3 linked regions of the Homo sapiens genome follow. The protein of the gene in region 1 interacts with the protein of each later gene in a pairwise test. Each region holds a gene or a part of one and is shown in the gene's direction. Other genes may lie near its edges. The genes, in order: RAB3GAP1, RAB39B and RAB39A.

Evidence for each region.
Region 2: the proteins of RAB3GAP1 (region 1) and RAB39B interact in a two-hybrid assay, tested with the Homo sapiens proteins (one study listed by BioGRID).
Region 3: the proteins of RAB3GAP1 (region 1) and RAB39A interact in a two-hybrid assay, tested with the Homo sapiens proteins (one study listed by BioGRID).

Annotation. Positions count from the first base shown.
Region 1 is NC_000002.12:135,167,225-135,171,473, forward strand, and holds the end of RAB3GAP1 (rab3 GTPase-activating protein catalytic subunit), read left to right. Parts: intron 1-468; coding exon of another isoform or gene 469-489; intron 490-1,320; coding exon 1,321-1,557; 3' UTR 1,558-2,509; coding exon of another isoform or gene 2,510-2,535; 3' UTR 2,536-3,486; downstream 3,487-4,249. UniProt on the Homo sapiens protein: Catalytic subunit of the Rab3 GTPase-activating (Rab3GAP) complex composed of RAB3GAP1 and RAB3GAP2, which has GTPase-activating protein (GAP) activity towards various Rab3 subfamily members (RAB3A, RAB3B, RAB3C and RAB3D), RAB5A and RAB43, and guanine nucleotide exchange factor (GEF) activity towards RAB18.
Region 2 is NC_000023.11:155,257,667-155,261,753, reverse strand, and holds the end of RAB39B (ras-related protein Rab-39B), read left to right. Parts: intron 1-524; coding exon 525-951; 3' UTR 952-3,519; downstream 3,520-4,087. UniProt on the Homo sapiens protein: The small GTPases Rab are key regulators of intracellular membrane trafficking, from the formation of transport vesicles to their fusion with membranes.
Region 3 is NC_000011.10:107,931,281-107,938,610, forward strand, and holds part of RAB39A (ras-related protein Rab-39A), read left to right. Parts: intron 1-7,330. UniProt on the Homo sapiens protein: The small GTPases Rab are key regulators of intracellular membrane trafficking, from the formation of transport vesicles to their fusion with membranes.

The DNA of each region.
Region 1 (4,249 bases):
TAATAAGCCTTATCATGATTATAGGTATCTCTGGTATGTACATACTTAAATGGAATTCAGCAAATAAATGACTGACTGGATTTCGCTTCAGACTTGCTAGATTGAATAACTGTTAGGCACCTATTCCTAAATTCTATTTTTCAAGCCATGAACACTTTTTTTTTTTTTTGCATCATAATTCCCAGTAAAAGAGCTAGGTTTTTGTTGTTCATTTCTCCCATTAAATGACATCATATGTCACCTGTTGAGCCATGGATGCATGAGTAGTAGTAGATGTCTGCTGTAGTTGACAGCTGGGTGTGCTGTGTTTGGTGTGACTTTGTCTTGAATATTCTTTTGATAGGATCATGTTCCATAATGTAGTGCATACTGTCTTTGAAATAATCCTGAACTCCCTTGTCTAGCCCTATTTAAACCATCTTGCTTGTTTCCCTTTCATCACTGTTTCTTTTCTTACCCCTTCTCAAGCTGACTGAATCTTCTGATGAGGTAACAAAATAGCCTTTGCCCCTCATAGTTCCTTGTTCCTTCCCATCCCTCTAATTTCATAAGGTCATTAACACTAACCACCTCTCTCACAGTCTGGATTTGGCTTACCTACCTTGCTGATGTTTAGCGCAACATGATTTCATGTTTCCATTGCCAAAACAATTTTTTTTCCCAAATTGATGGTATTAAAAAAAGTACAGTAATCAGAATTAAAATTGTAGGCTGTAAATGAACATGCATTTTATGTCATTTCAATGAAAAAATAGATGCCTTTAATATTGCGAACTTCTCTTTTGTGGTCATTGCTATATGGGCCTCTATCACTTCGGCATCACATTAGCTGCCCAGCAAGCAAGACCAATGCCCCCACTTTTAATTTGGCAAGTGAACCTTAAAAAGAATCGATTAAAAAATTCTTACCCAGAGTCAAGATGAAAATCATCTTTTCACTCTGGAGAAAAACAGCTCCTTACTGGACTGAGGCTGTCAGACGTAGACTTGGGTCATTGCTGGAAGAAACATAGAAAGCAGCACAGCTCCGAGGTCCTTTTTCATCAGATGTGTAAATATGGCCTTCTCTCTTCAGAGCAGATTGCCTGGCAGTCATCATCCCTCCTGTCTGTCTCCAGCCCGGCTGCTCATGCAGTGTCTCAAGCTTCTTGCATTTGCTGTGTTATGTGGTTTTTGAGTAATCTTAACATATAGCTGACTGCATTACTGAGTAACGTGGGACATTTTCATATCTTTATTATGTTAATTCATCTGTCCTTCAAAAGCATCTGAGTTTAGCATTTGACCTGCTTTTGACTTTAGCATTTGATTCTTTTCCAGGCTGCAGCTATGACTCCACCAGAGGAGGAATTGAAGAGAATGGGCTCCCCAGAGGAAAGAAGGCAGAACTCCGTGTCAGACTTCCCACCCCCTGCTGGCCGGGAATTCATTTTGCGCACCACTGTGCCGCGCCCTGCTCCCTACTCCAAAGCTCTGCCTCAGCGGATGTACAGTGTTCTCACCAAAGAGGACTTTAGACTTGCAGGTGCCTTTTCATCAGATACTTCCTTCTTCTGATTCTTCTAGCATTACTCGTTGGTGGCTTCAGAGACAGTGCTGCCTCCTCCTGAGGGAGGGAAGGTACCAGGGAGAACCTGGGAGGTCCTGGAGAGGGCCCTGTCCAGTTGGGTGATCAGGAATCAAACCAGCATCGGAAAGACTTCCCAGCACCAAGCTTGAGCTGTGTCGTTTCGTGGAGGGGGCAGCGAGGATGGGCTTGAGCTGTTGAGAGATTTCTGCCCTAGAGATGGCCTTTGTATATGGGGGGGTGGTGGGGGGACACAAACACATCAGACACTCCGTCCTCACACTGGCAGGACGGTGTTCATCGCATTCTCTTCTGTGACCAGCCTCTAGGCTAGCGGCTGCATTCGTGGTCTGTGCAAACACTTCGTGGTTCTATATATCAGCAGCAAGTGTGCAAAATAAAGGACCTGTTAACTCAGATTTCTGGATATTTTGGTGGTAGCTTCTAGTCCCAGAATCTGTGTTTTTAAAATACTACATGACATTCTGTCTATTCAATCACCTGGTGGTCATCTTTCTTGTACTAATTAACTGTTGATGAGCATTTTGGATATTCTAGGAGAAAGCCTATAATTTCACATAGTTTCTCTTTTTCATGTAACTGTAACCTAAATGTATTACTTCTGATAAAACTATATATCAAATGTCACTGCAAATTAGTTTTATATCTGTCATGTGAGATTTGTCTTACTTATTTTTCTTTTGGTTGCCATGGAAGTTATGGCCCTGAAAATCGTCTCCCTCCCCTTCTCTTGCTGTACAGCATGCGTTCTCTTTTTGTGGTTGCTGGCTGGGTACTGTATTTAATGAAGTAGAGAATAGCACTTGCAAAAATACAGTCTTGGTACCTAGAGACTGTCATGCAGATAGTATAATTTGGTATATGTGCTAATGCATTGAGTAGAGGATTATTTTAACACACTATTTTGCTTTTGTATTTTAGTTAAAATAATCGATGGGGATGTGTAGCCCCCCCGTGTGAGGATGACATCACCACATTTCTAGTTTCATGGAGCTCAAGATGTCTTGTGTCTGTGTGGCTAGATGGCCTCTGCTTGGTAATCTTATTTTTAGGCCTAAAATTCCCACTTAAATCCAAAGTAAAAATGGTTATACTGAAGCATAAACCTTGCCTGTGTAATTTTAAAAAATTAATAGAGCTGTGCAAACCCTGTTATTTTTGTAAAAAAAAAAAAAAATACATATCTATATATAATATGTGTGTGTGTGTGACATATGCACACGTCTCTGTGTATGTGAAGTAGGGGAGGCCCTGGGGGATGACCTCCCAGCCTTTATGATGCTTTTCTCTATGCTGCTGGACTTCATTCTTACTGGTCCACGCAGATGCAGGCGGCCTGAGGCCAGTGCTGTACCAAGTAGAAGACGGTTCCTAAGGACAGAGTTTGTCTGTTTTCTAACAAAGAAAAATTCTACAAAGGAGAGGTTGGGCGTTACAAAGGCATTGTGAATCTAATAAAAGGAAAGTGTCGCTTTCTGTGGCGTTTTCTTTCATTTTCTCCCGCTGAGGCATTTCAGTCTAATTTCATGTGGTTTTGTGCTGTCTCAGCTCTAATGTTTGCAGCCTGCTGAGCCTAACAAGGCAGTGGTCTCAAGAACATTCTTTGTGCCTTTTTAAAGTACTCCATTTTATTTTTATGATAGTTATGTATTTATTTCACAGATATATTTAAGTACCCACTTTGTGTCAGGTACAGTACAAGCAATGAAGATAAAACAGAAACCAAAACACACTCCCTTACAGGGAAAACTGACACCACGTTGCCACAAAATGTTGAGTATAGTCAACTCTGCTGTGTGGATCGGAGGGCCTGCATTTATCCTACAAATAATTGAATGTAATCCTACATTCATGTATTCATTGGCAGTACGGAGTAATAAATGCAGCAATGTCATAAAGTGTTGTAGGAGTTTCTTCACCCAGGCTTTGAGGATCAGGAAAATTACCCCAGAGGGTGTGATTTTGGGATTGAGACCAGAAGCTGAGTAGGCACTGGGGAAAGCATGGGGGGCGTATGGGAAATGGCTTGCAGAGAACCAGGCATTCCTCCAGCCCTGTGTGCAATGAAATCATGATTTTCATTGTGAAGTGCTTTATTTCTCCACCTCTTCAATCTGGTCTCGGCCATGTCTTTCTTTGGTCAACAGACAGAGACTTGACAAGTCCTTGCACATTGGGGCTTGCCCTCCCTTCTTGCCAGGAGCCTTGAAGCCACTGTGAAGAAGGCCACTCTAGGGTGAGAGTTGGGGCAAAAGGTAACTGACAGGAGGGGGCAGAAAGCGTATTACAAGCAGAGGAACGGAATGGGCAAAATCCCAGAAATAAGGGAAAATGTCTATTTGGGGGGCAGCCAACATTTCTATTTGGCTGAAGTGTGGTATCTAGAGTGGGAAGGGGCAAGAAATGAAGATGGTGAGGTGAACTAAGGCAAGACCAAGAAGTTCGGGGGAAGCCGCAGCTACAAGTTAGGGCTTTGCCTTTGGGGCGGTAGTGAGTCACTGAAGGGTTTTGTGCAGGGGAGTGACATGGTGGGTTTTAGAAAGGCCACACTCTGGCAGGAGAGGAGATGCTAAGAAAGTATACAGCTGTCGTATATCTTGAGCTAAACTGTCTGCTCCTTAGAAGAAAGGTGGCAATTACAACTGCAATGTGTTTTTTAAT
Region 2 (4,087 bases), on another chromosome or scaffold:
TGTTAACTATCATAAATTCATTTCTATGTTTTAAAAATCCTGTTTCAACTGCTAGCATTTGTAATGAACTCTCCACGTCACAGAACACTTTAATATCCATTGTTTCATTTTGCCTCATGGTAACACTGTGACTTGGGTATCCTATTTTGCAGAAAAGGAAGTCTCTGTCAGTTATTCAGATTTGGGGGGTGGGAGAGTTAGTTGTAGTTTTACCTGAAGGCAAGAAATAGAACTCAGTTATGTCCCAGGGTCACTCTCCAGTGCTGAATCCATGGAAAATGCCTAAAAGTTCATGAACATTCGTTTCTAGAAGATGCCCATCTCAAAGTTTGGCCCAATTGGAAACTCACATATTAGTAGTAGTATGGAATGCCATTTGTATTCCTTTGTTTTTTTAAAAAAAAAGAAAATCATTTTTATTAAAGGACTGTGTCACTAACCAGGAACACTTGAATATACTGAGTTCATTGACATGCAGAAGTTTGGGCACAGCCTTTACTCTTTACTTCTTTCTTGTGTTTTAGATCCATCACTCGCGCCTACTACAGGAACTCAGTAGGTGGTCTTCTCTTATTTGACATTACCAACCGCAGGTCCTTCCAGAATGTCCATGAGTGGTTAGAAGAGACCAAAGTACACGTTCAGCCCTACCAAATTGTATTTGTTCTGGTGGGTCACAAGTGTGACCTGGATACACAGAGGCAAGTGACTCGCCACGAGGCCGAGAAACTGGCTGCTGCATACGGCATGAAGTACATTGAAACGTCAGCCCGAGATGCCATTAATGTGGAGAAAGCCTTCACAGACCTGACAAGAGACATATATGAGCTGGTTAAAAGGGGGGAGATTACAATCCAGGAGGGCTGGGAAGGGGTGAAGAGTGGATTTGTACCAAATGTGGTTCACTCTTCAGAAGAGGTTGTCAAATCAGAGAGGAGATGTTTGTGCTAGTCAGTTCTTTTATTTCCAAAACATGCTCTCCTACTTGAACTGAAAAGTAAGAGAAATAAATAGAATCTTTGTGTAACTGATGAGAACTCAACCTCCATTTGGATACCAAGTGAGCCTCCCTCTCAGGGGGACTCTGACAGACTCGTGTGCGGGTGGATGGGGGTGCCTGAGTGCTGTGACCAAGGGACTGAATTGCTGACATGGGCCAGGCCAGGCACTGTTTTGTGGCCCATGCTAGGCAGTGGCTGCTCCATGAGCCCTTTGTGGACCACATGTTAAAGGCCTGGGGTTTAGGAAGCTAAGTCCCAGGAAAACATACCTACAGACAGGACAACTGTTCCTTGGTATTTGAGCTCACTTATAGGCCATGAACATAAAGAAATACATAAAGGGGAAAAAAGTTTCACAATGGGGACAATTAGCATAACTAAACAAAGATTATGAGCTCTACTTATTCCGTGAGAATACCCTGCACCAAAGGTGTTTGCTGGGTTTGGTTAAAAGGTACCAATTAGCTTTTAACAGCTTTCTGTAAAATGAGGAACACAGACCAAAAGGTCTGGTGTTCAAGTAAAAATGATGTGACTATGGAAAGGAAGGCAATCGACACAGTTATTAGCACATTTCAGAAAATGAACACCCTTGTGATAGAATTACCAGCTGTATGAAACAAATTGTCCCATGCAAATTACCCTATAACTAGGAAAGAGACACTATAACCCAAATGCCATACCCCCTTTTTCCTTTGACCATGCCTGGGGTTTCAATGCCTTGGCACCTGCAATCTGGAAGTAAACAGTCTGCTTGCTTCTTCAGGCACGTGACAGTGACAACACAGTGACTGCCTCTGAAAAGAGCCCTGAGGCAAACACTCTCTCCTGCTGAACAGGAGGCACTGTAACCCTTACAAACAGCTTACAGTTACTTGGGCTACTTATTTGATCATCATAACAGGCCTACGAGGTTTTTGCCCCATTTTACAGAATAGTAAACTAAGAGCCATGAAAATCACTTGGCCAGGGTCAAGGACTCGTGACTCCTAGCTCTTTTCACTGCATCATACTGCTGTCAGATGAATAAATGATTATGAATTTGTTTACTTGGGAAGAGATATGACTATAAATAAATGTTCTCTACATGTTAGGATATGTTTTCCTTATTGATTACAACTCAGCTATAATCCTGAGGGAACATGGGAAGGAATCAAAGGTAAAGCCCATTCAGGCATTATTGACAAGAGGGCTTTAAACAAGTGAATAATTGCACAACTAAAAAGACATTAGAACTGTGTGGGCTATAAGTGTTCTTATCACTGAGACACAGTGGATTTTTATTGAAAGGAACCACGTACAGCAATGCGGAGTGGGATAGGGATAAAATACCCACCCCAAAATGACCTTGGCCACCTGTCTGCCATATACGTACACTGAGTTCCTGTCTACCCAAGAGAGTCAGCCCTTAATTCTCAGGTGAACAAACAGCTAACTGCATCAGCAAATTGGAATGGCTGGCTTGAAGTTTCCATTATTTTCTTGAAGAGAGGTGATGCTTTAAATTACTTTTTGGATTGTAGCCAGTTCAGCTAGGCAAAAGCCATACTTTTCACAATTAAAAAAAAAAACTATTCTGACTAGAGTCAGGTTTCTCATATCCATTGTGATAGGAAGGCCTAAGAATGGCAAATCGCTTTGAGATATAATATTGAACTTCAGTATGAATGTGACCGAATCTGAAACTTTGGGAATTTGCTTTAGCCAGAATAAAGAAACCAAATCATGAAAATTATGGAAGACTATTCTGCCACCTGTGCCCCAAGTTGGATGAGCAAACCACTTTGGATCAGTTCACAGCATTAACTACAAGTGAACTGATCATCTTCTCTATATTCATTTCACAAGAGCTGGCTTAGGTGGGGTAATTAAATTGCCACCTTCGTGGTTGTAAAAGACAAACAAAACATGGCAAATTTCATTAACACAAAATTTCATCAACTGCTATACTGAATTATGTTTAGAAGATTCTGAAAGCAAGATTATCCAGTGGGTAAATGAGAGTCGACTGGATTCTGTCAGTTCAAAAAAGGAAAGAAACAAAACTTCCCTACAATTTTCTTCACTAAAATTTATTATATGTACAGTATTCCCACTCCTGGCATTTTCTGGCAGGTTTAAAAATATTCAGCATAAATCCAGCAGAGGTGGCTGAGCTTAATTGCTTAAATAAGTTCTAGAAAATTTAAAAATCATTTTAGTAGAATTCAGTACCATTGTCACTGCAATAAGTGGGTTTTAGAAAATAAGTGTGAAAAGAATCAGGTGTTAATATAATACTAAGGATAAAGCTTTAGAAGCTATTTTACTACATAGGTAAAGAAAAGATAAACTAACTTGTAACAAAGACCACAACTGCATGTTGGATTAGATTGTCTCATATTTCAGAATAAAATGTACTGTATACTTTTCCTCACTTTGTTGTGCACTGTAATGAAATGTGAAAAATGCTTTATTTAGCTGTATGTGAATGAAAATATGCTTGTATTTAGTAAAATGATTGATTATGTGACTGTGAGATTCCAAGTGTGTGTTATAGCTATTTCCAGAATCTGTTACTACAGCGTAGCAACTACTACCAAGGATATCAATAAGATGTGACATATACCATACACAATCGTATTCACCATTACCTTAAAGCCAGAAAGAGAATATAATTTTTGAAAGTTATCTGACCATCATATCAAAAGTCCCTGGGACCTCAATACTTCCTGGTGAGCATATGCCACTTTGAGAAAAGTTGGTTCTGTCAAGCCTAAATCTTCATCATGATGATTTTTAATCAAGAGTCTTAATTCTGTTGCCAAGTAGTTGATTACAACTATTATGTTCCCTGGAAAGTCTTCTTTTTTCCAGGCTAAGTTGCCTCAGCTTTTTCAAATCCTACTACGGCATGCTTTTTATGCCAGGATCACTTACAGTGTGGCACCAACATAAGAACACAATAGTTCAGCACATTTCCCAGGATTGATAGTACACATGAGGGTGGGGGGAGGGTTAAAAAAAAAAGGAAAGATAATGGATTCTGAGTCTGGGCATAAGTAGATAGGTAGCCTAAGTTCTGTACAGCTTTATCACATTTATAT
Region 3 (7,330 bases), on another chromosome or scaffold:
GATGATTGTTTTTTAATGCCTTGAAGAAGAATGTAAATAATAATTCATTTTATGTACATTATTAAAACCAAACAGTAACTCTCGCATTATAATGCAAGGACATTTAGGGAATGTTTACTGACAGTGAGTCATAATTTATTTTGTTTGGCTCTTTACCAAAGTTCTGTTTGTAAATACATACGTATTTCAGTAGCTACCTCCAAATACTTGCTTTTCTCTCATTTACCAGAATGTTTTACCTTAAGATTGCATTTAAAACAATTACTATTAAATCATTCTGTATCTTTCATCAAGAAATTACAGATTCTAATTTTGAATAATAGATATCATTGCATATTTTATTTTATAGAAAGGTACTGTAGGTCATGAAGATGTATTCCTGTCATTAGTCATAATCATATCATGAAGAATTTGTGGGAAATGTCATGTTTGAAGGTTTATTGGTGATTGGATATAAACTGACAAAAAGGAACCTACTTAGCTCATGAGGTAGCTTGAAAGCATAATAAATGTATTACAGAACAATAGGTTAGTGAGTTGGTAATTATGATCGTGATTAGCTTTCGTTTTCTTTCTTTCCTTCTTTTTTTTTTTTTTTTTTTTGAGACAGGGTCTGTCACTCAGGCTGGAATGCAGTGGCACAATGTTGGCTCACTGCAGCCTCCACCTCCCAGGCTCAAGCAATTCTCCTGCCTCAGCCTCCCAAGTGGCTGAGACTACAGACACACACCACCACGCCTAGCTAATTTTTGTATCTTTTTTTGTAAAGACAGGGTTTGGCCATGTTGCCCAGGTTGGTCTGAAACTCCTGGGCTGAAGCAGTCCACCCACCTCGGCCTCCCAAAATGCTGGGATTTCAAGCCTGAACCACTGCGCCAGGCCAGCCTTAGTTTTCAATGTTCAGACTAACATGCTAATAGAGGCTAACTACTTGCCTGAAATAAAAAGGGACAAAATCCAAGTGAAAAAGATTTAGAAAAATAATGTATATGTGAACATAACTGTAGATTTGTATATTAAAGAAATTTAGAATTACAGTGCCTTCATTAAAGATGAAAGTTTATTTCTCTCTTGTGTATAGAGTGGTCCAAGTTGGTGGAGTGGTTCTGCACCAGACCATCATTCAGTTTCCTTCTTCCTTAATTTTCTGCCATGCCTAGGATGTTACCATCATCTACATGAGCAAAGCTGGGTTATAAGCACACTGTGTGTCAGTTCAGGGGAAGGAGAAAGAGCAGCTCTATACCAAGCAAAGTTTCTTTTAAGCAAGTGAGGCCAACATGGTATAGATTCTTTCGGCTCTCAATTCATTGGGGAGATCTTAGTTACAAGGAGACACTTAGACTGGGCCATTATGTGCCTAGGATGTAGGAAAGATGCCTTTGGCACTGTAGGTGTTAGGGGAAGCTAGTAATCACTTTTTTATAAATTTTGGTTTTGTTTTGTTTTTTGAGACAATCTCGCTCTCTCATCCAGGCTGGGTGTGGTGGCCAGATCTTAGCTCACTGCAACCTATGCCTCCCAGGTTCAAGCAATTATTATGCCTCAGCCTCCCAAGTAGCTGGGACTACAGGTGTGTGCCGCCATGCCCAGCTAATTTTTGTATTTTTAGTAGAAATGGGGTTTCAACATGGTGGCTGGGCTGGTCTCGAGCTCCTGGGCTCGTGTAATCTGCCTACCTCAGCCTCCTAAAGTGCTGGGATTAGTTTAGCAGTAAAGGAAACGAGAATATTGTTTAATACAGTGTTAATAAGGATAACTATATTGGAAGAGCTAGGTGTATGGAGAGCATTAAGTGTAAGAATAGAAATTTTGAACTTTTCCCATAAAAAGCGTTTAAAGTTATATGAATATAATATGAGATAAATACATAGCAATGTTAGCTGTAGAATGGGAAACCTCTAGGCTTTGAGCCAGGTTTGGCCTTTTATCTGACGTTACCTGGCCTTTGGGGTATTAATGTCCTCCTCGTGCAGTGCTGTCAAGGAGTGCTCTGCAGAACACTCTTTCCTGTGATTCTTTATATATATATATGTGTGTGTGTGTGTGTGTGTGTGTGTGTGTGTGTGTATTTCTTTCCTTCTTTTTTATTCTTTCTTTTTTTTTTTTTTTTTTTTTGAGTCAGAGTCTCACTCTGTCACCTGGGGCTGGAGTGCAGTGAAACGATCGGCTCACTGCAACCCCCACCTCCCAGGTTCAAGCGATTCTCCTCCCTCAGCCTCCCGAGTAGCTAGGACCACAGGCATGCGCCACAGCACCTGGCCAATTTTTGTATTTTTAGTAGAGATGGAGGTTTCATCAAGCTGGTCTCGAACACCTGATCTCAAGTGATCTGCCCGCCTCGGCCTCCCAAAGTGCTGGGATTACAGGCATGAGCTACTGTGCCTCACCTGTGATTCTTTTTTTTTTTTTGAGATGGAGTCTTGCTCTTGTGCAGTGGCGCAATCTCGGCTCACTGCAACCTCTGCCTTCCAGGTCCAAGCGATTCTCCTGCCTCAGCCTCCTGAGTAGCTGGGATTACAGGCGCCCCAAGCTCAACTAATTTTTGTACTTTTAGTAGAGACGAGGTTTCACCATATTGGCCAGGCTGGTCTCGAACTCCTGACCTCAAGTGATCCACCCGCCTCAGCCTCCCAAAGTGCTGGGATTACAAGCGTAAGCCACCGCACCCAGCCTGTGATTCTTTTTAAAAGAAGCATTCTGTGATCAAGTAAGTTTGGAAATCCCTGTATTCCATATGGCACTCTCTTAAAAATTCATATCAAAGGCTCGAAGAAGTATTGCAGCAAAGAAACCTGTTTAACTTTGATTAACCTAGTATTTCCCAATTTATTTTAGGGGCTATTTTTAAAATATGAAAATCTAGGCTGGATGCGGTGAGTCACGTCTGTAATCCTAACACTTTGGGAAGCTGAGGCAGGAGAATTACTTGAAGCTAGGAGTTCAAGACCAGCCTAGACAACAAATCAAGACCCTGTCTCTAACCAAAAAAAAATTTTTTTAATTAGCTGGGCATGGTGGCATGGACCTGCATCCCCAGCTGCTCAGGAGGCTGAAGTAGGAGGGTGGTTTGAGCCCAGGAGGTCGAGGCTTCTGTGAGCTATGATCATGCCACTGCACTCCAGCCTGGGTGACAGAGCTAGACCCTGTCTCTAAAAAGAGGAAAAAGAAAATCTATGATAACTGGTGCTCTAAGGAGTATAATTTGGGAATAGCTCCCTTGATAAGTTGCCTTAGCATATTCTTTGAGCAGAACCACTAAATACTTGAGGTTTGTAGCAATGGAAGACCTGCAGACAAACTTAACCAATTAATTAACTTGGTTAAGGGCTGTAAGCAGTAAGTGCTATAAGAGAAAGCCTCAGGCCGGGCGTGGTGGCTCACACCTGTAATCCCAGCACTTTGGGAGGCCAAGGCGAGTGGATCACCTGAAGTCAGGAGTTCGAGACCAGCCTGGCCAAACATGGTGAAACCCCCATCTCTACTAAAAATACAAAAATTAGCCAGGCGTGGTGGCAGGCGCCTGTAATCCCAGCTACTCAGGAGGCTGAGGTGGGAGAATCGCTTGAACCCAGGAAGCGGAGGTTGCGGTGAGCCGAGATTACACCATTTCACTCCAGCCTGGGGGACAAGAGCGAGACTTCGTCTCAAAAAAAAAAAAAAAAAAAAAATAGAGACAGCCTCCCTCCTCTCCCTTCCCCACAGAATCTGGGAGCAGCCCCTAACTATTACCACTAAATCTTCCCGGCCTTTGCCTGCCTCTCCATGTTTTTTCCCCTAGCTCCTCTTCTGCTATGCATCTTTCTCCTTGCCAGGTGTCTTACTGTTACAGGAAAGGGGTCCCGATCCAGACCCCAAGAGAGGGTTCTTGGATCTTGCACAAGAAAGAATTCAGGGCAAGTCTGCAGTGTAAAATGAAAGCAAGTTTATTAAGAAAGTAAAGTGGTGAAAGAACAGCTACTACACAGACAGAGTAGGACGTACCTGAAAGTAGCAGGAGGAACGCATCCGCCCTAGGTACAATGCTTGTATATATATGAGGAGATGTGCTCTCTGCCACAAGGGTTTGTGATAAAGGATTAATTTTCTTTCTTCTTCTTTTTTTTTTTTTGGAGACAGAGTCTGGCTCTGTCGCCTAGGCTGGAGTGCAGTGGTGCGATCTCGGCTCACTGCAAGCTCCACCTCCCGGGTTCACACCATTCTCCTGCCTCAGCCTCCCGAGTAGCTGGGACTACAGGCGCCTGCCACCATGCCCGGCTAATTTTTTGTATTTTCAGTAGGGACAAGGTTTCACTTTGTTAGCCAGGCTTGTCTCGAACTCCTGACCTCAGGTGATTCACCTGCCTCGGCCTCCCAAAGTGCTGGGATTACAGGTGTGAGCCACCGCGCCCAGCTAATAAAGGATTAATTTTCTTAATTACCACATTTTGCAAGAATCGATATTATTATCTTTAAAGCAAAATTAGGAATGCCTTTGTTCTCCAGATATTGGAATATCTGGACACTCCCAAGTCTGGGTCTGTTTAGTAAACATTATTAATTTGTTCCCTTAGCCATAAACATCTAGAGGCTAGGAATGCCCAACTTTCTGGGGAACGCAGCCCAGCAAGTCCTGGCCACTTTTTTTTTTTTTTTTTTTTTTTTTGAGACAGTTTTGCTCTGTCACCCAGGCTGGAGGGCAGTGGTGTCATCCTGGCTTACTGCAACCTCTCCCTCTTGGATTCAAGCAATTCTCCAGCCTCCCAAGTAGCTGGGATTACAGGTGTGTGCCACCATACTCAGCTAGTTTTTGTATTTTTAGTAGAGACAGGGTTTCAGCATGTTGGCCAGGCTGGTCTCGAATTCCTGACCTCAAGTGATCCGCCCACCTCGGCCTCCCAAAGTGGTGGCATTACAGGCGTGAGCCACTGCACCTGGCGTCATTTTCCTAGCCCTTGCTCAAAATGGAGTCACTCTGGTTCGAATGCCTCTGACATTAGTCCCCCTCCAGCTTATTTTTATTTTTTCTTTACCCCTTTCCTCTGTCTATCCATACTGATGTTTACTTTCATCCTCTTCCCCCCACCCCATTTTTATTTTAATGTGTCTCTTACTCTTCCATTTCCTTTTAGCTTATCTTCCCTTATCCCACTGGCTTATCTTCTCTTCTCCCACTGGCTACCGCATGTGTCTGTTTTCTCTTCTGCCTCTTCCAAACATCCATATAAAGTTAATGTTTCAAAGTGATTTAATTTATGTACTCTGTTCTTAATTTTAAAAGCAAGCAATATTAACATTTTAAATTTCTTCTTAAGAGACTTTTTAAAATCTCTAAACTAAATTAGTTATTTTTGGTTTTGTTTCTTTTTAAAAAGTCCCTCATTTGATTCTCAGCTCCCTCACTGTGGTTCATGGCCTTCAAAAGAAAACGATTTTTTGTTCCTTCAGTAGAAAATGATTGGTACCAGTCTGGCAAACATGGTGAAACCCCATCTCTACTAAAAATACAAAAACAAATTAGCTGTGCATGGTGGTGCACACCTATAATCCCAGCTACTTGGGAGGCTGAGGCAGGAAAATCCCTTGAACCCAGAAGGTGGAGGTTGCAAGGTTGCAGTGAGCCGAGATTGCGCCCCTGCTCTCCAGCCTGGGTGACAGAGCGAGACTCCCCCTCCAAAAAAAAAAAAACAAATGAAGAAAATGATTGGTGGGTCCATAATTGCATAGGTAACAGAGCAGAGATGACCATAATCACTGCAGTCTACTGTAGTTCCAAGTTATTGTTAATAGAAAGGTCAGCTATAGTTCTATTATCAGGTAATATAATGTCTTAGTTAAAAGTGTATTGTAAGTAGTAGAAATCTAGCCAAATTCATTTATTTATTTGTTTTTTAGAGACAGAGTTTTGCTGTGTAGCCCAGGTTGAAGTGCAGTGGCACAATCATAGCTCACTGCAGCCCAAACTCTTGGGCTCCAGTGATCCTCTTACCTTAGCCTCCTGAGTAGCTAGGACTACAAGCACATGCTATGGCACCCAGCTAATTAAAAAAAAAAAAAATTTGTAGAGACAGGGTCTCGCTGTATTGCCCAGGCTGGTTTTGAACTTCTTGCTTCAAGTGATCCTCCCTCCTTGGCCTCCCAAAGTGTTGGGATTACAGCCATGAGCCACTGCACCAGGCCCAAATTAGTTTAATAGGGAATAAATTATAAATGATACAGATTTCATGAAAGCAAAAGCTCACTGAACATCCAGGTGTTTGGAAGTATGGAATTATTACTATTTTTTTTTTTTTTGAGATGGAGTCTTGCTCTGTCGCCCAGGCTGGAGTGCAGTGGCGCAATCTCGGCTCACTGCAAGCTCCGCCTCCTGGGTTCAAGTGATTCTCCTGCCTCAGCCTCCCAAGTAGCTGGGATTACAGGCACCTGCCACCATGCCCAGCTAGGAAGTATGAAAAATTTTAAAACAAGAGTTTGTGGACTTCCCCTCTAGTCTATTTCCCTTCTCCAACTCTGTTGGCTCCTAGCTCTCAGTCTCTGAGCCTCTTATTCAAACTCTTGAAAGAAAAAATATCTCATTGACTACTTAACTATCCAGTGAATCAGCTCCCCTGCAGTCAGGTTATTGAGTTACACAGACATATAATACAAATGTATTATAACATAAATATACTAAGTAGGTATTATGGGTCAGATAATGTAAATGTATCTGTAAAGGTCCACTTTTTTGGAAAGAGAAATTCACAGAGAAGGGAAATGAGCAGTCACCCCCAAAGTGTCTATTTTATGGTGTTTGAGAGTAAAATGGTATATAAGAATGAGATGGCCAGGCATGGTGGCTCACGCCTGTAATCCCAGCACTTTGGGAGGCCGAGCCGGGCGGATCACCTGAGGTCAGGAGTTCGAGGCCAGCCTGGCCAACATGGTGAAACCCAGTCTCTACTAAAAATACAAAAATTAGCCGGTTATGGTGCACACCTGTAATCCCAGCTACTCGAGAGGCGGAGGCAGGAGAATTGCTTGAACCCAGGAAGAGGAGGTTGCAGTGAGCCGAGATCACGCCACTGCACTCCAGTCTGGGCAATAGAGCAAGACTCCGTCTCAAAAAAAAAAAAAAAAAAAAAGAATGAGACAGCATCGTTTCTAACAAGTGCACCAGAGTGCCAAAAGATGATCTGTGTAGCCAGACATTTTTAGGCACAGTGGCTCATGCCTGTAATCCCAACACTTTGAGAGGCCAAAGCGAGTGGATCTCTTGAGCCCAGGAGTTCGAGACCAGTCTGGGCAACATAGTGAGACCTCGTCTATAAAAAAAAAAAAAAAAAAAAAATTAGGTGGGCATGGTGGAGTGCCC